Homo sapiens: one gene and its partners. The protein of the gene in region 1 interacts with the protein of each later gene in a biochemical or structural test. Each region holds a gene or a part of one and is shown in the gene's direction. Other genes may lie near its edges. The genes, in order: MYL12A, MYLK, CDC42BPA and CIT.

Evidence for each region.
Region 2: of the proteins of MYL12A (region 1) and MYLK, one has a biochemical effect on the other in vitro, tested with the Homo sapiens proteins (one study listed by IntAct).
Region 3: of the proteins of MYL12A (region 1) and CDC42BPA, one has a biochemical effect on the other in vitro, tested with the Homo sapiens proteins (one study listed by IntAct).
Region 4: of the proteins of MYL12A (region 1) and CIT, one has a biochemical effect on the other in vitro, tested with the Homo sapiens proteins (one study listed by IntAct).

Annotation. Positions count from the first base shown.
Region 1 is NC_000018.10:3,243,416-3,250,825, forward strand, and holds the start of MYL12A (myosin regulatory light chain 12A), read left to right. Parts: upstream 1-4,385; 5' UTR 4,386-4,494; intron 4,495-5,945; exon of another isoform or gene 5,946-6,028; intron 6,029-6,146; exon of another isoform or gene 6,147-7,410. UniProt on the Homo sapiens protein: Myosin regulatory subunit that plays an important role in regulation of both smooth muscle and nonmuscle cell contractile activity via its phosphorylation. Implicated in cytokinesis, receptor capping, and cell locomotion.
Region 2 is NC_000003.12:123,881,329-123,888,300, reverse strand, and holds the start of MYLK (myosin light chain kinase, smooth muscle), read left to right. Parts: upstream 1-3,968; 5' UTR 3,969-4,095; intron 4,096-6,972. UniProt on the Homo sapiens protein: Calcium/calmodulin-dependent myosin light chain kinase implicated in smooth muscle contraction via phosphorylation of myosin light chains (MLC). Also regulates actin-myosin interaction through a non-kinase activity.
Region 3 is NC_000001.11:227,315,492-227,322,532, reverse strand, and holds the start of CDC42BPA (serine/threonine-protein kinase MRCK alpha), read left to right. Parts: upstream 1-4,040; 5' UTR 4,041-5,350; coding exon 5,351-5,528; intron 5,529-7,041. UniProt on the Homo sapiens protein: Serine/threonine-protein kinase which is an important downstream effector of CDC42 and plays a role in the regulation of cytoskeleton reorganization and cell migration. Regulates actin cytoskeletal reorganization via phosphorylation of PPP1R12C and MYL9/MLC2.
Region 4 is NC_000012.12:119,867,319-119,874,343, reverse strand, and holds part of CIT (citron Rho-interacting kinase), read left to right. Parts: intron 1-5,142; coding exon 5,143-5,284; intron 5,285-7,025. UniProt on the Homo sapiens protein: Plays a role in cytokinesis. Required for KIF14 localization to the central spindle and midbody. Putative RHO/RAC effector that binds to the GTP-bound forms of RHO and RAC1. It probably binds p21 with a tighter specificity in vivo.

The DNA of each region.
Region 1 (7,410 bases):
ACCAAGGATCCATTCTGCTATGCTTCCTTGCTGTTGTTTGGGTAACGAAATTTTCCTACTTTGGACCAAAGGAGAAAGCACAGTACAGTAAAATAAAATATGGGCTTCGGGCTGGGCCACTTACTAGCTATGTGCACTTGAACAATTGACCAGTTACCATGTATTTACCGGCACCTGTGGATATTAGGCATTGTATTAGGAGTTAGAGATATGTGGATAAATATCCACATATTTACTGTTTTCCTTTCTATTCTACCCCCGGACAATCAGAGACAGGATTTATAACCCAGGTTCTTTCATTACCTTTTGGGAAACCTGTGCAGATCATTCAAGTATTTGAGCTTGTGTCCCAATCAATGAAACGGAGGTAATAATGTCTATCTCACAGGGTTGTTGTAAGAATTATATATTAGAAATGTTTATATAGAATACCTAGCACATAATAGGCACAGATAATAATAACTGTCCATTCCATTTTTTTCTCCCTTTAGATCTCACTTGGGGAAAAAAAACACCACCACCTTACTCTGAGGCAGGAGCAATGGATAGTGACCTTGTAGAAATTATAGTACTCCCGAAATAATTGATTGCTATAAATATTGAGTTTCCAAATGATTAGTGCTGGGTTTTCTCAACCTAAGCACTACTGACTTTTTGGGCTGAATAACGTTCTGTTGTCGAGGGCCGTCCTGTGCATAGTAGGATGTTTCGCAGCGTCCCTGGCTTCTCCCCACTAGATGCAGTATCTGTCCCGTTTGTGAAAAGCAAAACTGTCTCTCCAGACATCGCCAAATGTTCCTTCAGGGCAAAACCCAACCACCACTCCTCCACTATTGAGAACCACTGCAATAGTGGATCATAAGCTCACATTTAGTGGGCCTTGAGAGGTATTCTAAAAATTAAATGACATAGAATTTGCTATGGACTGAATTGTGTGTCCCCTCCCTGCCAAATTCATATGTTGAAGGCCTAACCCCCAGTGTGACTGTATCTGGAGATATAATTAAAATATAATTAAGGTTAAATGAAGTCATAACGGTCGGCCCTAATTCCATTAACACTGAAGGCTCATAAGAGGAAGAGATCCCAGCCATTTGGGAGGCACAGACGGGCAGATCACTTGATGTCAGGAGTTTGAGACCAGCCTGGCCAACATGGTGAAACTCTGTCTCTACTAAAAGTACAAAAAAAGAGGCCAGGTGTGGCGTCTCATGCCTGTAATCCAAGCACTTTGGGAGGCTGAGGCGGGTGGATCACCTGAGGTCAGGAGTTGGCAACCAGCCTGGCCAACATGGTGAAACCGTCTCTACTAAAATACAAAAAAAAAAAAAAAATTAGCCAGGCGTGGTGGCACATGCCTGTAATCCCAGCTACTTGGGAGGCTGAGGCACAAGAATCACCTGAACCTAGGAGGCAGAGGTTGCAGTGAGCTGAGATCGTGCCACTGCACTCCAGCCTGGGCGACAGAGTGAGACTCCATCTCAAAAAAATAAGTAAATAAAAGTAAAAAAATAAAAATACAAAAAAAAAAATTTAAAAAGGAAAAAAAAAAAAGAGGAAGAGAGTGAGATCTCTCTGCCACATGAGAACACAGGGAGAAGGCGACTGACTATCTGCAAGTCAGGATGAGGGCCTTCAATCGAATTGGCCAGCACTTTGATCTTGGACTTCCCGGCCTCCAGAAGTATAAGAAATAAATTTCTGTTGTTTAAGCCGCCCAGTGTGTAGTATTTTGTATGGCAGCTAAAGCAGACTAATAACAGAATTGAAAAGAACAGAATAGAAATCCTTGAAAAACATTATAGGTAGTCAAGTATTTCTTAGTGAAATAAATTTCTTACTATGAGTATTGGTCAAAAGATTGAGGGAGGATGGCTTGAGCCTGGGAGATGGAGGCTGCAGTGAGCTGTGATAGAACACAGCACTCCAGCCTGGGCAATAGAGCAAGACCCTGTTTCACTCTATTTGGAGCAGAATTCAAGTCTCCAAACTTTTAGTAAAAACGTGAGAAGGAGATTATCACATGGAGGCAAAGATCTCCCATAGGGTCCAAAGGATAGAAATATCAGAGTCAGAGGCCTTTGATGGTGGGTCCAGTCATGAAAACTGAGTATCAAAATACTAGGTGGACATTTGAAGAACATTTTATCGAGATGCTATTTTTCCACATTGGTTGACTAACCGTTTTTAAATCCATAGTTGTGGAATGAATAAATGAATGAATGAACACAGACTACACAATTCCTGTTCATCTTCAATCAGCCAGGCCCTCTGATCACCTCCAGACAATCAGGCATGCTGCTCCCTCTGCCTGGCATCTCCCTCTCCTTTTCTTTCCCCACTGAATTAATTCTAGAATTAGCTCTTTAACATCCCCTGGGGGACACCTTCCACTAGTTCCCAGACAAGTTTACGCTTCGTTTGTGCTCCTTCAATAGGCCCTAACTAACTGTACTGCAATTATTATATCTGTTCCACCCTTGTTCCCTGATACTCCGCTAACTCCGCATTTTTTCTATTCCTCCCGCCCCCATCCCCAAGGTAGCAACAACTATGTTCTGCTCCGGAAAGCATAAGCCACAGCCCCCACCACAGTGCTTGGCAATGCGGTTGCTGTTTAATACCTGCTGACTGAGTGGAAGGAAGACAAAACAATTACCTGACTCAAAGAGAAGCAAAAGAATGCTGCCTTCAAGCTGAGGGGAAGACTGAACTGTCCGTTTCTTTCTGCTCTAAAGTGTCCTCTGGAGAGGACGCTGGCGGAGCTGGTGCTCTCGTGGTGGCAGGCCACCACCCTGTGGAGGTGTCCATGCATTGCAAGTGCTCGCAAGCTCCAGGAACAAACGCATCCGCGCAGCCGTCTGGGGTTTGTCCCGTCGCTGCCAGCCCTCTCGCTGAGTCCCCGCCCTCGCCGATAAGAGCCCACTTAGGACCCCCATTACATGGATGGCTTCCCAGGACCTGCCCTTAAAGACTCCGATTTAGTAGGTTGGAAATGACGCAATTATTTTTATTTTTAATTAGTACCCCAAGTCATTCTTTACCATCAAGGAAGTTTGGGAAACAGATCACTTTTGTTTCAATCACCTGTGGAACTGGAGCAGTTATTTTTTTCCCCAGCGACTTTACCACGAAGTTAACTTTGGAATACGTTAGTGGTTAATACACGGAACGTTCCCGAGATCCCTCAAGAAAGAAGCTACGAATACTTAGAAGATACTATTCCGCGGCGTTTACAGCAACACTGTCCGTTCCAGAAGGATTCAAGTGGCGGCCTGCTTTGAAGGCGAAGACCACAGGGCAACCCAAACTTCAGAAGGGTTCTGGCCACGGGAGCCACACTGGTCACTGTCCCCTAGTGCTGGGATGACGGCTCGAGTGTTAGAGGATCCCACTCTCTCCTCTGGTAGGTGAGGTCAGAGAGCTGAGGGGGCCAGAACAAGTCTTCCTTATCGGATTCTGGGCGGAAAAAGATAAAGTCGGGGAGGACTTTCTCTTTTTAATAAGATTCATCGTTACGAATTGTTCTAGGCAAGCAGACCTCAGGAGAAATAGGCCCAAGTTTTGATTCCTGTTTTCACCAAGTCGCAAGTCCTAATCGTAGCAAGAGGTGCGGGGAAGAGTCGCCTTCCTTCCTGCATAGTGGGATCCAAGTCAGGCTGTCCTTGTTAGCCAGGGTCAAAGGGGCTCTGCCAGGGAAAAACGACGGCAAATGTTTTTCAAGAGGAAGTCTCCAGCCACTTGTGACCTGGGAAATCCGTCTGGGCCAAAAAGATAGTGGAGGCTTGGCTGAGGGCCCCAGGGACACACGTTTCCTCCCGTATGGAGGGGGCGGGACTCTTAATAAAATTACACTGCACACAGAGCTAGCATCAAGATCCGCTCCCGGGATACGCGCACTGCTCCGGGGCCCTCAGGCGGAGACCCAGACCCCGCGCGGGGCGTCAAGCGCAGGCGCACTACCGCCCACAAGCTGGAGCCCGGCTTCGGGGCGGGGCGAGGGTCAGTCACGTGGGCCCGCAGCCCTCTCCTCGATTTCCCTACAAGGACTTGGGCCGACGGGCCCCGCCCTTCGCCGTGCCCTGGAATGTGCGGCCAGGCAAAGCCACAGGACGGACGCAACCATCTGCGGAAAGGATAGGGGGGAGGAAGACTTAACACTGCAACAACAGGTACAAAAAAGAAGGAAACTCAGTAACAGGACCCAGAGGACCATTATATATTGCTCTATATTCTAGGTCGCCCACTTTACACTTCCTTCTCATGCACTTGGTCAATACCACGCCCGCTGACCACACTGGCGACTTCCCTCTCTGTCGCCCCTCCGTGAAGTCAGACCCACTCTGCGGGCCAAGAAAGGTGACCGGGCTTCCTTCCGGCTTGCTAAGCAGAGGCCGGAAGCGGTGGTTTTTAGCGGCTCTCTGGGTAGCAGGGTGGTGTGATAGCGGCAGCGAGGGGCTCGGAGAGGTGCTCGGATTCTCGTAGCTGTGCCGGGTGAGTGGCGCTCGCGTTCGGGCGCGTGAGACCCATCCCGGGGACCCGTCTCCGCGGGGGCAGCTGGAGGGCGGCGGGGCTCCTGGCGCCGGTAGCGCACCTGGGCAGGTGTGCCAGCCAGGTCCCCGGTTCTGGGATCCGAGGCCATGGCTTGGAGTGGCCCAGACCCGAACTTCGCTCCTGTGCCCAAACTTGGAACTCTGGAAATGTGGCTTCGCTCACTGGCGCCTTGAGCTTGGGCGACTGCCGGGCCCGCGAAACCCGACCCCTGCAGAGCTGACTCCGGGACTATTTTAGTTTCTAACGTCAACTTGCCCGATTCAAGAGGGTTTGCGCAAAAACGTAGCCCGTTGTCCCCCTGCTGCAGCTGTTGTTGCAGCTGTGTGGCTGCGTTTAGTAGGAATAACCAACTCAAATTGGGAAGTTCTTCAGCTCAGTATCCGCTCCTGTAATTAGAACTTTTTTTCTTTAAGCGATGAAATTTTGGACAGAGAGATCTGGAGTTTAGTTTGTGACTCGAAGAAAAACTCCAAAATGTAATACCTTGTCCCATTTGGGGGGAAAGTTTGGGCTAATTCAATTCGCCATGGAAGTGTCTTCTTTTTAAAGTAGTTTAGTAGGTATATGAATGTATCTGTCAGTTCTTGAGAGACCTATGGATTTAGCAGAGATTTTAACTTAAGTGCAAAAAGTTTCATATTTAAAGGCGAATAAAGCGAATATTTCTTAAAATTATTGGTATTTGTTTCATGTTCTGGAAGGGCTCTAATAAACGGTAATCAGAAAAGCACTCTATTTTCAAAAGCGAGGCTTTACTGGCAAGTCAGCCCTCACAGCTAATTGTCTTTGTCCAGTGGTGAGAACTTTTGGGTGTGGCAGTCCAAGAGAACGAATCCTACCTTCAACCGGAAGTTTGCATAAGAAATGAAACTTGGTTTACTTGGAACGGAAGCACCAACTTGAAATACACTTTTTAAAAATTGTGGTTAGCACCAGAAAATAAGTTATACTTAGGCTTTTTTTTTTTAAGTGCATTGATTAAATGAGGCGGTATATTTGGTCAGGGTTTAGAAAGCCCACCAAATACTAGGTGCTATCACAGTACGCAGTGTTTTGTAAGATGGTGGTTTTTTCTTGCAGAATGTGTGATATTTCTCAGAATATTATCAATTTGAGTGTTCGTTTTGTAGAAGAAGTTTCTAGGTTATTTTACATTTATTGCCACTTTGTAAATAAATGCTGGACTCTAGGATTCTAACCACAGAACTCTAATGTATATATTGGTATGGATTAATCCCATTTTATAAATGAACATAGTTTCTAGAGATTCTGAAAACTTCTTGTGTCCTTTGGTGTGTGGGGAAAGCCACTTTGAGAATCTCTTCTATTTCTCCCACCTATTAATCTAGTCTAACATTTTCCTTAATCATGTTGTGTATCTCTCGTTACAGCCCACAATGATTCTGAGCTAAAACACAAAATAAAAACCAGATTCATTGCCACCAGCGCTCACCTCGCCTGACTTAAAAAAAAGGTTATGCTCCTTTAGATCTGTAAACTCAGTCTCCTAACTGCCCTTCATCCACTTTCTCATGCATCTGAAATCCTCATATTTTGTAGAAGCCTGTTCTGTAAGTCTCTCTACTTTCCAGTTTCGTACAACAGACACTCCTTGACACCAAGGATCTTTCACTTAATCCCTCAAAAATAAAGACTCGAGCTGGGTGCGGTGGCTCACGCCTGTAATTCCAGCACTTTGGGAGGCCGAGGCAGGTGGATCACGAAGTCAGGAGTTCAAGACCAGCCTGCACAAGGTGGTGAAACCCCGTCTCTACTAAAAATACAAAAATTAGCTGGGCATGGTGGTGGGTGCCTGTAATCCCAGCTACTCCAGAGGCTGAGGCAGAGAATTGCTTGAACCCTGGAGGTGGAGGTTGAGATCGCGCCACTGCACTCCACCCTGGGCGACAGAGCAAGACTCCGTCTCAAAAATAAATAAATAAAAATAAATAAGTAAATAAAGACTCGACTTTATGATTGAGGAGCTTCGTAATTTGGAAACCTCAGGTCCTTACCTGGCGATCTTTGCATCCTAAAGAATAATTACATTGACATGAAATCTTTTCAATTTATTTTACCCTAGCTTGCTTTTTGTAAAAAGCAATTTCAGGGGGGAGGGGGGAGGGATAGCATTAGGAGATATACCTAATGTTAAATGACGAGTTAATGGGTGCAGCACACCAACATGGCACATGTATACATATGTAACCTGCACGTTGTGCACATGTACCCTAAAACTTAAAGTATAATAATAAAGCAATTTCAACTTTTTTAGATTAAGGGGTATACCCTAGTTTTCTAAACTTCGATGAGAGTTGTGCATTTGCTGAAGGCTTATTACATGAAGAGTGACAGTCTAAATTGTTTGAAGGAAAGTAAAATGAACAACAAACTAGAATCAGCAAAGAGGACCCTGACAATATCAGAAATGATCTGCTCCTTGAGATCATAGCACTGTTCCTGATTTGACTCCCTCCACCATTATTTATTCTCCCCACACTTTTAGTTTGGTAGGGAAAAAACCCCACAGTTTCTGTATTTTGGAACAGTGACTGTGCAGCCAAACTCCCTATCGCTGAAAGGTTTCTGGTGGAAAATAACTCATAGATCAGAATCCAGCCTCCTTGAAAAAGTAAAGGCCTAGGTAGTAACTTCCTCAACATTACACTGCCAGTTTTTGATAGAATTAACTACCTTAATTTGTTAGAATTGAGACTAACAGCCGAATCTCTTCATTCTAACAATGCTTTGTAGCTTCTAAATGATCCCACACGGGGTTTTTCAAGGTCTTCCTCCTCCCCAATCCCTTAATTACTCAGAAACATCTTTTCTGAACTCACAGCATTTGATAATTAT
Region 2 (6,972 bases), on another chromosome or scaffold:
CAAAAAAAATACTAAGGTCAACTCTCATATAGCTACTACAACAAAGTGAATAAAGATCATAATAACCTCCAGAAAGATATTCTCAAAAAAATTAAAGCTATAATGTCCTAGAAAAGCTAATACACACTGAGTGACATGAAACATGAAAGAACAACATACATCAGAATTAGAGAAACTCAGAAATTAGAACAGAACTCACAGAAGAATTAAACGTTTTATTTTTTATTTTTTTTTGGAATTAAACATTTTAAAAAGCATTTGAGAAATAAAGATTGACCTATAAGGAACACAAGAACACATAAATATAACTAATAAAAACTTAAAAGAAAATAAGGTAAAAAGGAGGGAAATTTATAAACTTAAAAACAAATGAAGAAAGAAATTAAAAAGATTTAAGGGAAAGTGACAAATGTTGAAGATAGACAAAAAAGGTTCAATATGCAGATAATAGAAGTCTCCAGAGAAGCAGTCTAAAGCAATCCAAAACAGAACAAATATTTAAGACTTTAATTGAAGAAAATTTTCCTGAAATTAACAAAATATATGTATTTGAAACCACATTTTGAAAGAAATACACACTGTTTACTTTCAAACTAGAATGACCAACAAACATTCTAATAAAATTACTGGATTTGAAAGAAAAAGATAAAGTTATTTGGGCATCTAGGCAAAGTGAGAAGGTGCCGTCTACAAACCAGAAAGAGGGCTCTCAACAGATACTGAATCTGTTGGAGCCTTGATCTTGGACTTCCCAGCCCCCAGAACTATAAGAAATAATGTTTCTTGTTTATAAGCCACTTATTTTGTGTTTTTTTTTTTTGTTGTTGTTGTTATAGCAACCCAGCTGGACCAAGACACCAAGTAGTTTGAATCCAACAAAATTGACCTTCAAGTAAAATGGCATGAACAAACTGTAAGCAACATGCAAGAACTCAGAGCATATTCTTTCCATGAGCCCTTCCTAAGGAATCTAGTAGAGGACAAGCTTTCAGACAACCAAAATGACTAAAGATACATAAACATAAGGAACTAATGGTAAGCATTAAATATATATTTGAACTTTAATTAGGATTAGAATTGTAGAACTGTAAAATTAAGACTAAATTAGGGTTAAATAGGAAGATTATGGTATAGATGGCTATAGAAGCTGATAATTTAGATAGAGTATAACTATAAAAGATGGATAGCATATGCAAAAAAAACTGTTTTCAAGAATCAAAACTGATGATGGTAGTATTAATATTGTTATTCTGAGATTATTATTATATGTTTAATGCAAACTAAAGCAAATTAGTAAATTGGGATATTCTAATTTCATCCTCCCTTTTGTCCTTGAGAACCAGAATTCTCTACATGAAAGAAAAGAGGTCCTAATGTAATATATGTTAAGTAAAAACTACAGTCCTGAAATTAAATTGGAAATAATATAAACTGATGAAAATATTATGAAGAATAATATTTCTCTAGAATATAAAAAAATGAAGTATTCTTTAGTAGCTCTGTCTATTGAAAAGGCCTAGAAACAGTTACCAACCTAGTAACAATGAATACTCCTAGTGCTCATATTGTTATCTTAAAATTTCAACAAAAGAAACTAGAGCTTCTGGCCAGGCGGGGTGGCTCATGCCTGTAATCCCAGCACTTTGGGAGGCCGAGGTGGGCAGATCACGAGGTCAAGAGATTGAGACTATCCTGGCCAACATGATGAAACCCCGTCTCTACTAAAAATACAAAAATTAGCTGGGTGTGGTGGCACGTGCCTATAATCCCACCTATTCAGGAGGCTGAGGCAGGAGAATCCCTTGAACCAGGGATGTGGAGGTTGCAGTGAGCCGAGATCGTGCCACTGCACTCTAGCCTGGTGACAGAGTGAGACTCCATCTGAAAGAAAAGAAAGAAAGAAAGAAGGAAAGAAGGAAAGAAGGAAAGAAAGAAAGAAAAAAAGAAAGAAAAAGAGAGAGAGAAGGAAGGAAGGAAAGAAAAAACAAAAAAACTAGAGCTTCTTGGAGAAATGGCTGATTCCAGGTTTGAGGCAGCAAATGTACAGATGTGCCTGGAACATCTTGTCATATCAGATAGCAAGGAAGCTATCAAAGACTTCTAGGGTCTTTGAAGCTCTTTGCACACTAGTGAGAGAGAGAGAGAGAGAAAAAAAAAAAGACTACTAGAATCTTATCAAAAGGAGCCAGGAGCCATATTGAAGAAGCTCCTACTGGCCAAAGATGGGACAATTTGAGCTCTAATATCGTAGATGGAAACCTATCAAATATATTTAAATTCATGAATTTATAATGATATTAAAGAAATCTAAGAATGACAGAGAATCAATTCCTTAACTTGAAAACTGGGTAATTTTTTTAAAAAAAAGCAGGTATTCATCGTGCCTTTCCTATCTCAGGGTAATCAAATAGTAGATGAGAGGAAGCATCTCCTTATCCACTTATGAACTAATAAATGAAAACAAAATTATTAGAATACCATGATTTTGCAAACTTCAATTAATTAATGAATCTAGGAATTGAGCATCGACGGCTGTTAACCTCAAAAAAGAGCAAACACCAGACATCATGATCATGTACCTCTTGAAGAAAAGAACACACAACCATCTATAATCTTACAAAAGACATCAAACTTCAGTCTGAGGAAGACCCTGGATCAGCTGCCAACTTGCTGTCAATACAGAGGACAGAGAAACATGCTGAATTGCCTCATGAATGTGCAACCCCCAGACTCTGGAAAACCTCACAGATCAAGGGCTTAAGTTATTTAACAAATAATTGTAAGGAAAAGACTGAAAAGGCAAATCAAATTAAAAAAAAAAAGAGTGGGGGGAGGGGTAAGGTGCACCCTTGGAAGATACCAAGAAAAACAAAAGCAGCAGAAGTGACTACATGAAAGTCAGGTTAGTGGTTACTTTTGGGAGGAGGGAGAAAGGGGGTTGTCATTGAGGTAGGGCACATGGAGAGGCTCCTGGGGTGGCTGGCAGAGTTCTATTTCTTGATCCAGGTGGTGATTACAAGGATGTTCCCTTTATAATAATTCACTAGTCTATATATCTATATATTTGTTTTTTGTGGTTTTCTGTATTTATGTTTTATTTTACAATTAAAAAATTTTTAAAAACACTCCTTAACCTGCAGTAAACAGTTTTTTTAAAAAAAACAAAAGAAGGTCCAAGTGAAGAGATCAGAAGCTATAAAATATTTCATATTGGGTGCAAACTAAATATAAAGCAAGCCAAAACCAGAAACACCTCCTCCCCCTCCCCTCCCCCCCCTCCCCTTTCCCCTTTTTTAATTTAAAGAACTTTGTAGGTATCTTCCAAACCAATGAGAGATTCTTAACACACACAAAGGGAGGATGTCAGAGGAACCATGGGGCTGAGTTGCACCACTGGAGGATGTCTGAAAAAAACTACATAGACAACCTTCCAGCACTAAAACTTTAGCCCCATGGTTCCGCTGACATCTTCATTTTACAGATTAGAAAACTGAGGCCCAGAGGCAGCCAGTGTCTCATGCACGCTCACGAAGCTAGCATCAGACCCCGACCTAAGGCCTAGGTCTCCCAGTGTAGGACTAAGACACGCACCAAGACAGTACCAGCCCGCTGACCGCCGCCTGCGAGGAGTTAACTGGGGCGGTGCAGGATAAGTGCGAGGGGGGCCCGGGTCTGGCGCTAGGTTTGGCTGCGGATTCTCCGCTCCGGACTCCGAGGCAGAAGGCGGGTGGGCGTGGCGGGAAGGGCAGCAGGTCCACTCCCCGAGCGCTATGCAAATGTCATGCAAATCAGTGCATGGGGGCTGGAGCGGGTGGTTTGAGTCCTGACCCCGTAGCGCCGCGCTCTCACTCGCTCTCCTCAGCGCGCGTCCGCTCTCCGCTCTCCCACTTGCTCTCTCTCTCGCCGGTTCGCTCACCCCCGCCCCGCCCCGCCCCGCCCCGCCCTGCCCAGTCCCGGACGCGCCTCGCGGGCTCCCCGCGCCGCCCGGTCGGCAGCAGGGCGCTGAGCGAGCTCGGAGCCCGCGCTGTGCGCCTGCGGCCGGGGCGCCCCGCCGAGCGCCGGTGCCCCGGCTCCCGGGCCGCCTTCGCCGCGCGGGTGAGTGAGCCCGCCCCATGCTTTTGTCCAGGCGCGGGCCCTGGAAGTCAAGGCTCCGAGGGTGGGAGTTCTGGGTGGGGGCTGGGACCCCCACCGTCTGTGCCTCCCGACTCCCCTAATGGAGAGGGGCCCCGGGGTGCGGCGAGGAGTCAGGGGCGTAAGGAGACGACCCCAGTGACGCCAGGCTGCACGAGTTTTCTTTTGGGGAGATGAAGTGCTTGGGGACACTGATGCGATTGCCTTTCTAGGAATCATCCGAAGGGGGTGCCTTTGATTTGAGGGGCGGAGGAGAAGCGGACCCTTCTCCCAGCTCCCAGACCCTCGCTAGAGGACTCGGTGACGGCCTCTGGGAAGGGGGTGCCACGTGAAGGTCCTTCCAGCCCAAATGTGATTCCGGGAAGGTAGGGCGGGGAAGGCGGCCCGCGAGTGCCAGACCTGGCCATCCCAGGCGAAGCTGGGGCGCGGGCTTTGCAGACTTGTTCCTACTCCATACTCCTCATTTAAGCTCCTTACCTCGCTCTGCCTCCTTCGCGTTAACTGGGGTCCCATTGTTGAGGGACCTTGTTCGCCGATGATTGCAGTTGGAAAGTTTTGGATAAACTTCTCAGGAGATGTGAGTTGTCAATGGTTGAGGTAGACCCCTCCCTGGAACTTATGGAACTAAAACCCTTCAAGACCCAAAGGACTGAATTTCTAGGAGTGGCATTGCAGATGTGAAGATGGGCTGATGGGGAAATGGTTTCAAGGATATATATTTTTTTTAGATTGGGGTGTGTGTGTTGGGGTGCGGGGCACTTTCTATTTCGTAGCCAGAAGGAGAAGACCCAGCTCTACTAGAGTCTAGAGGGAGTAAAATTAGCTGTTGTGATTCAGGGAGCTGGGTGGGTGTAGGGAAACACCTGGGCAGTGGGCATGATGCCAGACCTCAGGCCGTTGGTTTTTACCATCCCTCCTCTCCCCAAGTGCAAAGACCAGAGTATATGCAATGACCCGCCCACCCCACAGCCTTTGAGAGCCTGCCCTGGAGCTGCATCCCCCTTCCAAGAGAGGCTGTGTTCTTCTCCACCTGAATGGAATACTTTTTGTCAAAATGCACTTATCAATAAATTATTTCCAGATGGTGGGCTTAGGAGGACCATTTGGGGAACCCCGCCCACACTTCAAAGAATCAGGAATCAACAATGCAAGTCTCTGGGAGAAGTGTAGGTGCATCTGGTGACTTTACTAGGTTCCTACAAGGCATTTAGGGTTCTAATAGAACTGTTTTCTTTTCTCTTAAATTCTTGACCTCCTTCTCTCTTCCGTGATTCTCTTAGTCTCTTCCCCGCCTGCACACTGTGGGACTGTGGAGGATGATGCTGCTGGCACCACAGTGCTCTAGGGCAGCATGGAATTTTCCTTCCTGCCCAGAGTGAGGTTACCCCTTTTTCTCCCACTCTCAGTGGGCCAGGAGCCTTGGGTCTGGGAGGAACCTGAGCAGTTGGTCCTGGGTCCGGAGTGGTTGGACTCTGGATGCTGGATTGGGTAGCGGGTACTCTGGGGACATGCACAAGAGCTTTTTTTGCCAAGATGTGCAGGTCTGTCTCATTGTTCACTGATGATACAAAGGATGCTGGACCTCATTTGCAGCTAAGCATGAGCTTGGAGAACCACCCCACAGTGGGGAAGCATTTATGCTGGTTTATCTCCCATGTTCAGTTTCTTTTGTGTAATAACTGGCTAGCTGAGGAGGAGGGTAGCTGCAGCATTGTAGATGTTTCCTTGTCTTATTTTTATTTTTATTTTTTATTTTGAGACAGGGTCTGGCTCTGTTGCCCAGGCTGGAGTACAGTGGCGTGATCTCAGCTCACTGCAACCTTGACCTACCAGGCTCAAGGAATCCTCCACCTCAGCCTCCTGAGTAGCAGGGACTACAGGTGTGTGCCACCACACCTGGCTAGTTTTTTGGATTTTTTGTAGAGATGGGGTCCTACCATGTTGTCCATACTAGTCTAATGGGCTCAAGTGATCGCCCACCTCTGCCTCCCAAAGTGCTGGGTTACAGGCATGAGCCACTGCACCCAGCCAGAGTAGTTGCTGTTTGTGTGAGGTTTGCTCACCCCTTCATCAGGGGCTGCTTCCCCAGGGGCCAGATCTTAGAAAACATATGCAGAGCAGACTAGGCCTTGGAACATTCCTAGGCTAACTGGTAAGGCCAGGTGGCCCCACCTGCTGCCTGAAAATGGTAGACAGACAGCTACAGTCACTGCAGAGGAGGGGCTCCTGGCTGGCAGGTGGCGGGGGTAATCTGCTGAGAAGGCTTGTCAGAGAAGGAGGTGACCCAGATGGTGCAGAGGGGAGAGGCCTTTGAGTTCCAAGGGTGGGGAAAGGTTCTGGGTCTCTGGCTAGGGAGATCTTTGCTGGTCTCAGAGGCATAGATTGTGAATGCGCTGGGGTCACCATATACTCAGTGTCTTTGAGAATGACCCCTTGCTTTTATCCTCAAAATATAAGATGAGCCTAGAGTTTGAAACACAACTAGTTGGCTTGTCTGTCTTTTAGGAAGTTCATAAGGTGGGGTGGGGGTTTCAGAATGCAGCCTTGCTTGGGGACATGGGTACAGTGTCCCATGAGTATGGGGTGTCTTATTTAGTATCTTTCTGAGAACAATACTTGGGAGTCTGGAAATATAAGCCTACTTGGAAGCCCAGCTGCACCTCTCACAGCTCAAACCAACCCACACAGGCTGGGAGATTGTTCATTCTTAAAAGCTTCCTGTCCTGTCTTTTCAGCAAATGTAGTAAAATTTAGAAACAACACTTAAAAAGTATCCTTTCCCAACAAAAGACAATGTCCTCGCTCAACTTGGCCAGCAGAGGGTGCATGCAGAGGACATGA
Region 3 (7,041 bases), on another chromosome or scaffold:
CTTCCTGCTGCTGCCAAACTGGGTTACCTGACTTGCCCTGCATTTCCTCAGCTCTTCCACCATCCATGGAACCATGTGTCAGAATTAAGGTTTCTCTGGTTTTGGTCGGGCACAGTGGCTCACGCCTGTAATCCCAGCATTTGAGGCGGGAGGATCATTTGAGGTCAGGAGTTCAAGACCAGCCTGGCCAACATAGCCCTGTCACTACTAAAAATACAAGAAAATTAGCCAGATGTGGGCCAGGCGCGGTGGCTCACACCTGTAATCCCAGCACTTTGGGAGGCTGAGGCGGGCAGATCACAAGGTCAGGAGATCGAGACCATCCTGGCTAACACAGTGAAACCGCGTCTCTACTAAAAATACAAAAACTTAGCCAGGTGTGGTAGGGGGTGCCTGCAGTCCCAGCTACTTGGGAGGCTGCAGCAGGAGAATGGTGTGAACCCGGGAAGCAGAGCTTGCAGTGAGCTGAGATTGTGCCACTGCATTCCAGCCTGGGCAACAGAGCAAGACTTGTCTCAAAAAAAAAAAAAAAAAGAAAAGAAAATTAGCTGGATGTGATGGCATGTGCCTGTAGTCCCAGCTATTTGGGAGGCTGAGGCAGGAGAATCGCTTGAATCAGGGAGATGGAGGTTACAGTGAGCATGTGATCACGCCACTGCACTCCAGCCTGGGAGACAGAGTGAGACTTTGTCTCAAAAAAAAAGCTTTCTCTGGTTTAAATAAATAGGTGATTTCTGCTTTTTTGGTTGAACTCTGATATAATCATGTGCGTAGTTCTTTCTTTTGCCCTCATATCAACTTCTAATGCCCAAATATGTGAATTAACAACACATCCCACTTCTTCCTTGTTACAATAGGAAGGAAAAGTTGAGTTTATAGAACCTGCAGATTTTTTAGACCTCACTTGCTTTGTGATTAAAGCCATGGGCACTGGCATGAGACAGGCCTGGTGTTGACTTGTAGCTCCTGTGTCAATTACTAGTTGTGTGATCTTTCACAAGTTAAGATCTCTAAGCCTCAGCTTCTTCCATCGTCTGTGATATAGAGGTAATTTCCCTACTTCATATGGTTATGATGATTGAATAAAACATGAGCTCAAACTACCCAGGACAGTGTTTACAGGTTGTTAAGTGTTCTGTAAAGGAAGCAATTATTAATCAGAAAGTTTCTTTTTTATATACAAGCCCTTGCAGTTGATCTCACTCATGTCAGGAGCCTGACATGAAGACAGGACAGGCATTTGCTGGCATTTTATCCTGGGAGGGTACTAAGCCAAGTCATTCATTTGCAGGGTCAGGATGTGGCTAGGCTAAAAGGAGATGTGGTAAAACATCCTCAGTGTTGCTATACATTAAGCCCTACTGTGGCACGCACCTTGTTTTTGGCTCCGTTCTCCAGCAATGACCCTATAGTTATTCTGAAGTTAGATATACCAAGGTGAGAGTGAGGCTGACTGTTATAAATATTAATTGGTGGATTAATTCTCCTGCTTTTAGCCCTGAATTGGAGGATTAGTTGAAGAGAGCTTGTATTGGGGACTAGGCTTAATGATTTCTGTCCTGCCTTCTTCTTTCCACCTTCCTACCTTCTTGTCTTCTCCTGTCCTCTTTCTTTTCTGAATGGTCAGATTAATTCCCAGCATCTTCATAAAACATTCTCTGATTATTTCAAACAAATTGGGTGTTTGCAGTGGTATACATCTAATCTCCAGGCCCCCAAGCAGAATTTCACAAAGAAGACCTCCTCCAGACTATTTTTCCCCAAAGAATACCCTGCGAGGCAGCCTGTGGCACTCTTGTTTTGCAGGAACACTTCAAGCACTGTACAGCTGCTGGGCTGTGCCTTTCTTTGGCTTAAGACCGGTTTCATTAACAAGCATGTTCACACTTCAACCGGAACATTTAAAATAACACCCGCACAATGTGTTTAGTGTCTAGTTAATTATTAAGTCTCTGAGCTTGAATTATTCAAGCAAAATTGATTGGGTTCAAGCTCCTTCCTTCTCTTTGTGTGTGTGTTTTTTAAAATAAAAATAAATTCTGCTCTCTACTTTCTAAATAATGTGGAAAGGGTTATTTAGCAACCATCAATACCCTGGACTGTGGGTGGTACCCAAGCGCTAATAGAATAGGTAAAGAACTGACAGCTTGACTCTTTTGTTAAAAAAAAAAAAAGTATCTACATCTCATATACTTCCATTGTCAATTAGCATTTAGTGAGACCTAACATGTTTTAGGTTCTCCTTTAAACTTCTTTCTAGTTATTTGTAAGTTGGAAAAGCAGGTATCTTGGAGCCATTTCTTTAGTTAACCGTACTTGAAAAAGCAGAAGAAATTGCTTCCTTCTTTGCTACCGCATCTTATGGTCAAATGAAACTGTTAAAATTGGCTTCACCATTAAAATCCATGTTGTTGAAGAATGTTTGTTGAACTGAAAAAATGTCCATAATATATTGCTAATTGCAAGCAAGAGGCTATAAAACTCTTTTATTATGTATCATTTTTGTTAAAGTGCATAGGAAAAAGACTTGAATAATAAACACCAAAATATTGCTTATTATCTGTGTTAGGATTAAACTTTTCTACTACTTTTAGAATTAGACAACACACACCCATATAAAGATGTCATGGCTGGAAATGACTGACCTTTTGTTTGAATCTAAGTATCATTCATGTCAAGACCGCATTGAAAATAATGCTGTTCTTAAGCCAGGCAAGTGTAGACGTTGTAGATTTCATAAAAGATTCACACTATTTCATGAATCACAACTTGAATCGACTTCTGTTAGCCTTCATTTTACGTCTAGGCCCTCATTTCTAATTCTTCCTCAGCTTCCATATTATCAAGATGTAAGATGCAATTGTGGACATGAACATAGAAACACAACCGCCTCACAGGTGTGGGGAAGGAATATAAAATAATTGTATTTTAGAGAACGACCATAAAGGAGATGGCAATTTTGAGAGAAAGTAACAGAACTGCAATGACCTAGTTTTGTGGTGTTAATTTAAATGTGGCATCTTCCATGAGAATTTTATAAAGGGAGCTCTCCTAAAACCGAGATTCACAAAAACCTGGAAGGGCCCTACAGGGATCAGGTGCCCTAGCTATTCAGCGATTTGCCTTTGCTTCCCTAATTCCTGCATTGTGCCACTGGGTTACAAGTGTGTGTGCGCATGCACACAGGGGTGTAGGTTTGATGACAGTGGTGAACTGCCTTGACTGCCTTCACAGGCTGAATCCCCCGCAGGCAGTAACCATGGCTAGGGAAAAACAGGCAGCCGCGAGGACAGTTCCGGAGGAGACAACACCAGGCTCCCGTAGGGAAACTTTTGGGAATGGAGATGGGGGATTCCATCCTTTGCGTGCAGACCCAAGACTTCGATGGTAGCTCGGACAAGTCTGTCATTGTTTTTGTCCTGGGAAATGACACACGAAGTGCTGTAATTAGACACCTAAGAAACGATTACTCTGGAGTGTGCGCGAACCGAATCTGGGGGGCCGGTGGGGAGCAGGTAAGGGGCTGAAAGGCACCGTCTCCTCCAGCTCTGTCGGAAGCCTAAAGCCCTCTGCTTCTGGGCGCCCTTAACAAACGCGCCAGACAGGTGATGTCTCCGAGGACGAGCAGGAGCCCCCCTTCGCGATCTGCACCAGAAGCCTCGGGGAGCCGGGGCCACGGCGCGGCGGTGGCGCAGTTCCCAGCCTGCGCCCAGTCCCGCCGCAGCTCCCGGCGCGGCCCGGTCATCCCGCCTCCATATGCTCCGCCACCGCCGCCCGGGCCTCCCTCAGCCCTCCCGCAGCTCCGCATTCCACGCTGCGGCAGCCGCAGCCTCGCCGCCTAGGCAGTCCACACCCCTCCCCTCGGGCTGGCGCAGCCACTCGGGCCCCGAGCCCGCGCCCCCTTGGGGGCCTCCGCTGGGCGCGCCGGCCGGACCCCGCCCGGCTTGGCCGCCGGCTGGGGCTGAGGCTCGGGCAGGGCGGGGGCGGGGAGTGGAGGGCGTGTGCGCGCGCGTGTGCCGGGGCCGGGGGGCCAGGCCGCCATATTGGATCCAGACTCGTCCGCAAGCCTCCGCCTCTGTGCGGCGGGACTGGAGGAGCCTCGCTGAGCCCAGGGCGCGAGCGCGAGAGGAGAGGGAAGGCGGGGGAGGGCTGGAAGGGAGAGGAAGGGAGTGGTTGGGAGCCGGGCTGCCGCAGCCTCTAGTCTCCTCAGCCGCGGAAGCGACCCCTCCTCCTGCGCCGGGCCGCCTCCCTCCTCGCTGTGGAAAGATGCCCTTAGCCCAGGGGTGTGAAGAAGGGGGAGAAGTAGCTGCCAGAGCCGCCCGCGCCGCCGCCGCAGCTGCTGCTGCTTGTGTCCTTTGAATTCAGAGAAGCACCCCCCCGCCTGGGGCGTCGGGAGCCTCCGGCGCGGCGGCCCGGTGCGGGTGTCGGGGAGACCGGGCTCTCTGCCCGGCGCGGCGCGGCGCGGCTCGGCCCACGAGCGACCACCGACATGGAGTGGGCTCGGGCGGCCAAGTAGCCGCTTCTCCGGAGCCCGGTGCCAGTGCCGCCCGCAGCCCGCCTTCCACCCCCGGCCGCGCCGCCGGTCAGGCCCTAGGGTGAAGCCGGGAGGAAAATGAAGAGTTTTCACCGGAATCCGTTGAAAATAGGACTGACTGCAAAGCCTTAAAGAAAGAAGGACCTCGGGAGGAGAAACGAAAAGCCGCCTCCGGGCAAGACTTGGCGTGCTCCGAGCCGAGGGGCTGCTTCAGGGACCTCGCCCCCTCCCTTTCCCGCTGGAGAAATTGCCGCTGATGCATTATCCAAGTGGTGGTTGGGAGGATTTGCAGCAACATTTTTGGTTTTCCCTCCCCCTTCTATGCATTCTGTTTTTTTCCTCCCTTTTCTGTTTTTCTTCTTCCCGGGAAGTGAATTGCTGATGCAAATCGGACTTTATTCATTAATGATGCAACCGGATTCGTTTCAGGATTACGTTGCACGAGTTGAATTTTGAATGAAGGAGAAGAGTTTTTTTTTTTTTTTTTAAAGAAGTGTTGACTCTCTAGTTCGTTGTACTTTTAATTATTATTTTATTTAAATATACGACTTAATTGTATTCTTTTAAAAATGCATTAAGTATATATTTTATGGTAATTTACCCTCAAAATATATGTATATGGGTGAAATTGAAGACGCTTCAGTTAAGTGAGGTTACTGGTGTGTTGGATGTTTAATTCAGCACCAGCATTGCATGACAGTTGTTTGAATAACAAGTGGTTTATTTTTAAAACCATACCTTTTAAAATTTAGGTTCAGATAATAGTAAAAGTCATCATAATAATTTAAAGGAAAACCAGCAGAAATCGAAGCAAACATGTCTGGAGAAGTGCGTTTGAGGCAGTTGGAGCAGTTTATTTTGGACGGGCCCGCTCAGACCAATGGGCAGTGCTTCAGTGTGGAGACATTACTGGATATACTCATCTGCCTTTATGATGAATGCAATAATTCTCCATTGAGAAGAGAGAAGAACATTCTCGAATACCTAGAATGGGGTAAGTTTGTAATTTTTAAAGAAACTGTTAATCTTTAGCTGGTCATTATGATTTAATTGGTATAGAGAGTTATGAGTAAACTCTACTCCGTTCAAAGAAAAAATACAATAAAAAAACAGACACTAGTTATTCAAGATTTTCCGCTAGTTTTTGGTAAATATTTTCCCAGGAGTAGAATTGTGCTGCTCAATTGTTGCCTTGATTTAAGGCCTAGCTAATGTGGAACTTGGCTATGAAGAACTTATGTTTTTAGGTCAACAGTAAGAGATTTTAAATCAATTCTGTGATGGGCAAAAGTGGATTATTGGTTACAGTTGCCTAATACATGGCACTATAATAGTCCTTCATTTGAAAGGTATTTATTGGTGGAAACATTCAGACTATGGAAATTATTCTCAAAATAGGAGGAGATATTAAAATATCTGTGTTTGCCTTAGGTCAACAGAAAGCTGAAGGTGGTGATCAGTGGGTTTTATTTCATCTCTACATAGTACAAGGAAAGGAAACTGCTAAACATGGACTTTCCAAAAATTATGTTTGTAAGATTAAATGACATAGTTTAAAAATCTTGTGATAGTAGTTAGAGAATGTTTGGGGGCAGCTTCCACTTGAGAGTTAGATTTTACTCGAAAGTTAATTTAAATCTAAACTGGTTAGGTTTTTGGCTTCATTCTTCTAAATATAGATGTGATTTAGAAGACCTACTGTAGTGGAATAGATCAATGATGTGAGCAAACGCTCCATGACCTTCAAGCTTGAAGGCTTGGCTCAAGTTCTTCAGCGTCTGCTGTTACATACAGGGCACATTCTAAGGTCCAGAAGTTCACTGTTGCAATAAGCACGCATCGTCACCCAGATCTGTCTGTAGTAGTGGTACGTTGGCTTTTGAAGGATTTTGGCCAAATATGATTTTGTACCTTTGGAATACTAATCATTTTAGTTTGTTCTTATGCTAAGTTCTTATGCTAAAATATCTGTTCCCAAGTAAAACTTTATTTTCCTGAAGTAAAAGTCAAGTGCTGATTGTGTCTTTTTTTTTTTTTTTTTTTGGATTTGAAATTTATTCAAAGTTAGTTTCTCAGGTAAACCACTGATACAAGAATGTCTACACGTAATAACTTTAATTATTCAATTTGCCAGTATAAGAAGGTTTCTAGCAATGTGATGTCATAAGGTTTAAAAAAATATGTAAATGTGAATAGAATAACTTTTCAAAACAGACTGCCAGACTCATCCTGGGAATGTAAGAAATCTAAACCATCTTTCAAGTAACTTCTCACTTAAGAGTGAGACAATTTTGGCTTTGGTACTGGTTTTGTGAGTATACGTCTTTTATTTGTTGAATAAAGTATTTTGTAAAGCATATGTAGTTTTACATCCCATGTTTCACAAATTGAGAAATTCTGTAGTGTTAATTTTTTTTTTTAAGACTTAAAGGGTTTTGGTACTTTTAGAGTTGGAACTTGAGTTCTTAAGTTATGGTTCCTTAATGACACTCTAGTCTGTGATTTTT
Region 4 (7,025 bases), on another chromosome or scaffold:
TGCCAGTATTTTCGGAGGCTGAGGCGGGCGGATTACTTGAGGTCACGGGTTCGAGACCAGCCTGGACAACGTGGTGAAACCCTGTCTCTACTAAAAATATAGAAAATTAGCTGGGCATGGTGGTCGCATGTACCTGTAATCCCAGCTACTTGAAAAGCTGAAGCAGGAGAATCATTTGAACCCGGGAGGCGGAGGTTGTCGTGAGCCGAGATGGTGCACTGCACTCCAGCCTGGGCGACAGAGTGGGTAAGACTCCATCTCAAAACAAAACAAAACAAAAGAAAACAAAAAAAATAACATAGAGGTTGTAGTACCTAATCCACAGGGTTGTTGTGAGGATTAGATGAGATATTCGATTTAAAGCACTTAGCACCTTGCCTGGCTCTTAGTAAACTCCTTATAAAAAATGGTAATTATTGTTAATACTCAGCATAGAATAGTATTAGTTATAATATTAATACTAAATTTGTTTCCTTAATAGTAATTATATTTGGGAAGGTAGTTATGTAGGATACCTGTAAGATGATGAATGATGAAGTATTCTTGATAACTTTTTTTTTTTTCCAAAATATTGGTATTGGGTGTTTAAACAGATGAGAGTGGAAACAAATTGAAAGCTTAGGTTTTTCTGTGGGACCATCCCCATCAGCATTTTAAGTCTTGACATATCTTTCACAAATGAATAGTCTGTCTTTAACCTTAGATGGCTGGAGTGCTGCCACGTTTCAGCCCCTTTATCATGCTACTTTAAAATATCTCCAACTTGCTGGGCGTGGTGGCTCACGCCTGTAATCCTAGCAATTTGGGAGGCTGAGGTGGGTGGATTGCTTGAGGTCAGGAGTTCGAGAGCAGCCCGGGCAACATGGTGAGCCCCTCCGTTTCTACTAAAAACACAAAAAATAGCTGACTGTGATGGTGTGTGCCTGTAGTCCCAGCTACTCGGGAGGCTGAGGCAGGAGGATCACTTGAGCCCTAGAGGCAGAGGTTGCAGTGAGCTAAGATTGTGCCACTGCACTTCAGCACTTCAGCCTAGGCGACAGAGCAAGACCCTGTAAATTAAAAAAAAAAAAAAAAAGAAAAGGAAAAAAATTTCCAACTTATTAAGGGCTTATAGTGTGCTGATTATGTAATAGTTATGGCTTCCAATGTGTCTGGCATAGAACTGGCATGTTTCTGAGTATCTCACTTCAGCCTCATGACAGAGGTAAGGACTATTTTTAATTTAAACTTTAAATAGGAGGCAACAGGCCAGGTGTGGTGGCTCACACCTGTAATCCCAGTACTTTGGGAGGCTGAGGCAGGTGGATTGCTTGAGTCCAAGAGTTCAAGACTAGCCTGGGCAAAATGGTGAAACCCCATCTCTACAAAAAATATAAATAATTAGTCAGGCATGGCGGTGTGTGCCTGTAGTCCCAGCTACTCAGGAGGCTGAGGTGGGGGCATCTCTGGGGCCCCGGAGGCAGAGGTTGTAGTGAGTTGAGATTGCAACACTGCACTCCAGCCTGGGCAACAGAACGAGACCCTGTTTCTAAATAAATACATAAATAGGAGGCAACAGATATAGACAGATATGGAGGTAGGTAAGGCCTTGCCCAAGATCATACACGTTGGGTTTTGCAGATGAGGCCAAGATCAGACTCCATCTTTGGTTGGTCTGACTCCAAAGGCTGACCACATAGCCATTGGGCCACAGCACCTGTGCACGTCAGAATTTATTAAGTATATCTTGTATTTAGTCATTATAACAGGAAGACTTATGGGTAAACCCTCAGTTCATCTCTTTTTAATGCTGAGATCCCCCTGCCCAGTAAAGCTATTATTGCAAGTATAGTATATACCTATCATTTGCCTTGAGTTATCAGGTAAGGATGCTGTTTGTTCTTTTCCCATATAGTGCTGTTTGAATGAGGTTGAGATACAGTAGCAATTTTGTTTTCCATTCAGGTGAGTACCTTAGACTGAGTGTCATTTTGTCTTTTTTACTTCTACTCAACAGGATTTCCTGACATGTTCGAGGTCAGTGATTGTCAGACTTTCTGAGCCAGCAAAATTTCCCAAATTGCTGGGTAGACACAGGTTTTCCAACTTTTTATTTTGCCAAGTAAGGATATATAAAAAAAAAATAAAAAGAAAGACCTATTATTTTCTGGCCCTTGTATTTCATAAAGGGCATTTTAAGAAACAACAAGACAGGAAGAACATCATCTCAGAATAAAGGACCATTTTTAAATTTGAATACATTTAGTTTTATAAAAAAGATATCATGTGGTGTTCATTTTTTCTCATTTCACTGCAGGCTGTTGAAAACTTTGTTAAGAACCAGTACTATATTTGGGAACCCCTGCTTTAATTGATCTAAACTCTTGAAGAATAGAAGAAACAAAGCATTTTATTTTTCTGAGTTACTGGCAACTATTACTAAAGTGACAGATATGGTGGCCTTGAATGCAGTGCTTCCCAAACCTGATTGAGGTCTGACTCTCTTGGGGACCAGGGTCTCATTCTGTTGCCCAGGCTGGAGTGTGGCAGCACAATCTTGGCTCACTGCAGCCTTTACTTCTTGGGCTCAAGTGATCCTTCTACCTCAGTCTCACAAGTGGCTAGGACTACAGGACCATGGCACTACACCTGGCTAATTTTTTTTTGTTTGTTTGTAGAGATGGGATCTCGCTGTGTTGCCCTGGCTGGTCTTGAACTCCTGGGCTCAAGTGATCCTCCCACCTTGGCCTCCCAAAGTGCTAGTATTCCAGGTGTGAGCCACCTCTCCCTGCTGGGGAACTTGTTAATAAAACAGATTCTAGGCTACAGTCTGGAAAATTCTAATTCATTTGGTTGTGGGGGAGGGGGGCATAGGACCAGAGAATGTGTTTGTTTGTTTGTTTGTTTTTCTTAAATTCTCCAGTGCTGTTGTGATTCAAATGCAGCCGGTCTGTTTCTGTTATCAAGTGCTGTGTAACAAAGCACTCACAAAGTTTAAAGCAACAATGATTTATTTTTTCTTAGGATTCTGTGGGTTGGCTGGACTCAGCTAGGTAGTTCTGCTTCATCCTGTGATGTCAGCTGGGGTCACTTGTGGGGCTACATTCAGCTGGGATTATGTCTGGGACTGGAACATGTGGGTGCTGACTGCTGGCTGGGGCACCTTAGTGTTTCTCACATGGCCTCTCTTCTCCATGAGGTCTTTCAGTAGTATAGCCCAGGACTCGTAACTTTTTTTTTTTTTTTAAGACAGACTGTCGCCCTGTCGCCCAGGCTGGAGTGCAGTGGCACGATCTCTGCTCACTGCAACCTCCGCCTCCTGGGTTCAAGCAATTCTCCTGCCCCAGCCTCCCGAGTAGCTGGGATTACAGGCACGTGCCTCCACGCCCGGCTAATGTTTGCATTTTTAGTAGAGATGGGGTTTCACCACGTTGGTCAGGCTGGTCTCGAACTTCTGACCTCGCGATCCGCCTGCCTCGGCCTCCCAAAGTGTTGGAATTACAGGTGTGAGCCACTGCACCTGGCTGACTCGTAACTTTTTTTGTAAGTAATAAATATTTTAGGCTTTGTGGGTCCTGTAGTCTCTGTTGCAACCACTCAACTTGGCCATGGTAGCACAAAAGCAGCTAAAGACAATATGTAAATGATGGGTGTAGCTGTGTTCCAGTAAAACTTATAAAAAGTCCGTGGGCTGGATTTGGTCCAAGGGCTACAGATTGCACACCCCTGGTCTAGCCCAAGCATCTGTGCATGGTGGCTGGCTTCCCAAAAGTGGAAGCTGCTAAGCTGCCTTTTTTTTTTTTTTTTTTTTTTTTGAGAGGGAGTCTCACTGTGTTGCCTAGGCTGGAGTGCGGTGGTGTGATCTCGGCTCACTGCAACCTCCATCTCCCGGGTGCAGGCAATTCTCATGCCTCAACCTCCCAGGTAGCTGGGATTACGGGTGCCTACCACCACGCCTGGCTAATTTTTGTATTTTGGTAGAGACAGGGTTTCACCATGTTGGCCAGGCTGGTCTCAAACTCCTGACCTCAAGTGATCCACCCGTCTTGGCCTCCCAAAGTGCTGGGATTACAGATGTGAGCCACCGTGTCTGGCCGCTTGACAAGCTTCTTAAAGGCACTGCCCTGAACTGGCACAGTGTCACTTGTGTCACATTCTTTTGGTTGAAGAGAGTCTCAGAGATGGCACAGATTCAAAGGCAGGAGAAATAGACTCCAGCGCTTAAAGTAAGGAGTAGCATGTGCCTACAGAATTGGAGGAACTGTTGGAGGCCATCTTTGAAGAGAGACCACCACTATCCATGGCTTGGCACGTGGGAATCACTGCTCTATACCAGGGTTGCAGACTCATGTCTTTGGGGGCCAGGCAGTGAGTATAAATGAGTCAAGTGGGCCAGTTGGAAGATGGAGTCAGACCTGCAGTGAACTCCCAAACACATCTGCTACCGGGAGGGGCAGCATTACTCAGCTCCAGCTCAGCGTCATCAGGCAGGAAGGCGAGGCAGTGTTGCCGGATGTGCCAGTGTTTCAAAAGAAGCCAGAGACTCCATTTTTATTTTTTTGTATGGAATCTCCTGATTTTGAAATATTGGCAGATAATTCAAATTATCTTAAACACTACAGGCCAAACAAAACATATCTGTGGGCTAGAGACAGTCTGCCAGTTTGTAACTATTTCTCCAGATCATGAGTAAATTTGGCTTTACGATGGTCACTCAGTTCTTATTACTCTAGGTTGTTCAAATGAATTAAAAAAGCTGAAATTATATGAATAAACCCCTGGGCACACATGAAAGAAGTGAAAAACCCATTGTTTCCTATTGTAGAAACATGGAAGCATGTCAGAGCCAGAGGATCCAGAGGAAATATTCTCACTAGCCTCAGACCCTCAGGAGTGAGGGAGCTTTTCTTGTTAATGGCCACGCTTGTGCAGTTTTCCTTCCCAGGTGCTGGTGAAAGAAACCCACAGTCTTGGAATCATGGAAGTGATACCATAATGACTGTCAGTTGACGTTGCTTTAAAGAATGAAGCCACAGAATTGTGCTGTTAGCATGTCGTGAGCAGTTAGTTGAGTTGGTGGCTTGTAATTTACTCTGTGTGGATGTTATTGATCAAAGCTTTTCATTATTGACAGTGTCTCCATCTGCTGTTTGCTGTTTTTAGGGGAAACCACCCTTTATGACTCAACAGCAGATGTCTCCTCTTTCCCGAGAAGGGATATTAGATGCCCTCTTTGTTCTCTTTGAAGAATGCAGTCAGCCTGCTCTGATGAAGATTAAGCACGTGAGCAACTTTGTCCGGAAGTGTAAGTTTGGGGAACTTTTTCTTGAAAACTGTCCTGAGAGAGAAAAACTAGAAAGATGCTTGAGGCAGAATGAGTTACTGGTTGATAGTAGTCGGTAAGAACTCTGGTTCTATATAAGACAGATCCAGGTTCAAATTCAGGCTGCACCTCTTATAGCTGGGAGACCAGGTAAGTTGGGCTTCTTGGTTGCAAGCGACAAACTTAATTCAAAGACTGAATTTAGGCCAGGTGCAATGGCTCATACCTATAATCTCAGCCCTTTGGGAAGCTGAGGTGGGTGAATCGCTTGAGCCCAGGAGTTCAAGACCAGCTTGGGCAACATGGTGAAACCCCATCTCTACAAAAAATACAAAAATTAGCTGGGTATGGTGGCTTGCACCCGTGGTCCCAGCTGCTGAGGAGGCTGAGGTGGGAGGATCACTGGAGCCCGGGAGGTTGAGGCTCAATGAGCTGTGATTGTGCCATTGCACTCCAGTCTGGGTGACAGAGTGAGACCCTGTGTGAATAAAAGAGTGAATTTATTGGCTCATGAAACTGAGAAATCCAGGAATGAGTTAAGTTTTAGCTTTAGGCATAGCTAGTTCCAGAGACCTCAATAATATCCCGTGGCCCTGTCCTTATACTCACTCAGGGCTGACTTTCTATTAGGCAGAGTAGGCACGGTGCTTAGGATCTGTGATATTTAATTTTAATGAATTTAATTACTTTTAATTAACTGAATTAAATTTTAATTTGTTTTAAAATTATAGGAAAAATGAATATAATAATGTATAATGATTCTGGATTACATTCATCTTTATACTAATGTAGTCATAAAATATAATTTTTGTTTTTTTTGGAGACAGAGTCTTGCCCTATTACCCAGGCTGGATTGCAGTGGTATATCATGGCTCACTGCAGTTTCAACCTTCTAGGCTCAAGCAATCCTTCCACCCCAGTGGCTGGGACTACAGGCTCACACTACCACGCCCAGCTAATTTTTGCTTTTTTCTCTGTAGAGATAGGGTCTTACTATGTTACCCAGGCTGGTTTCAAACTCCAGGCTTGAAGCAGTCTTCCTGCCTCAGCCTCCCAAAGCTTTGGGATTACAGGTGTGAGCCACCATGCCTGGCCCCATAAAATATAATTTTTGAATTCTTTTTTGTTTTTAATGGAGGAAGGGGCTGAGGAAGGCAAAAGTACCTAGGGCCTATGAAGTCATATATTGGCCTTGCCTTCACCCTGTTTCTGACTTTGCTTGACTTCCATGTGATGAGGCAGTTGGCTGTTAGTGTCCCAGTTTCATACTCTTACATTAGTGTTTTTCAACCAGTGGGTGATTTGACGTTTTCGGTTGTCAGAGCTAGTTGGGGGTGGTGGTGTGTGAGTTTGGGGGGAAGGGTCCTACTGTCAGTTAATGGGTGAGGCCAGAGATGCCACCAAACACCTTACAGTGCACAAAGCAGCCCCCATAACACAGAATTATGTAGCCCACAATGCCAACAGTGCTGAATTTGAGAAACCCCACCTTGTACAACATTGCTGTGCAACCAACCACCCTAAATATTACTGACTTAAAACAATAGTCACTGTGGCTGGGCGCGGTGGCTCATGCGTGTAAGCCCAGCGCTTTGGGAGGCTGAGGCGGCGGATCACTTGAGGTCAGGAGTTCCAGACCAGCCTGGCCAACATGGTGAAACCTTGTCTCTACTAAAAATACAAGAATTAGCTGAATGTGGCAGCGGGCGCCTGTAATCCCAGC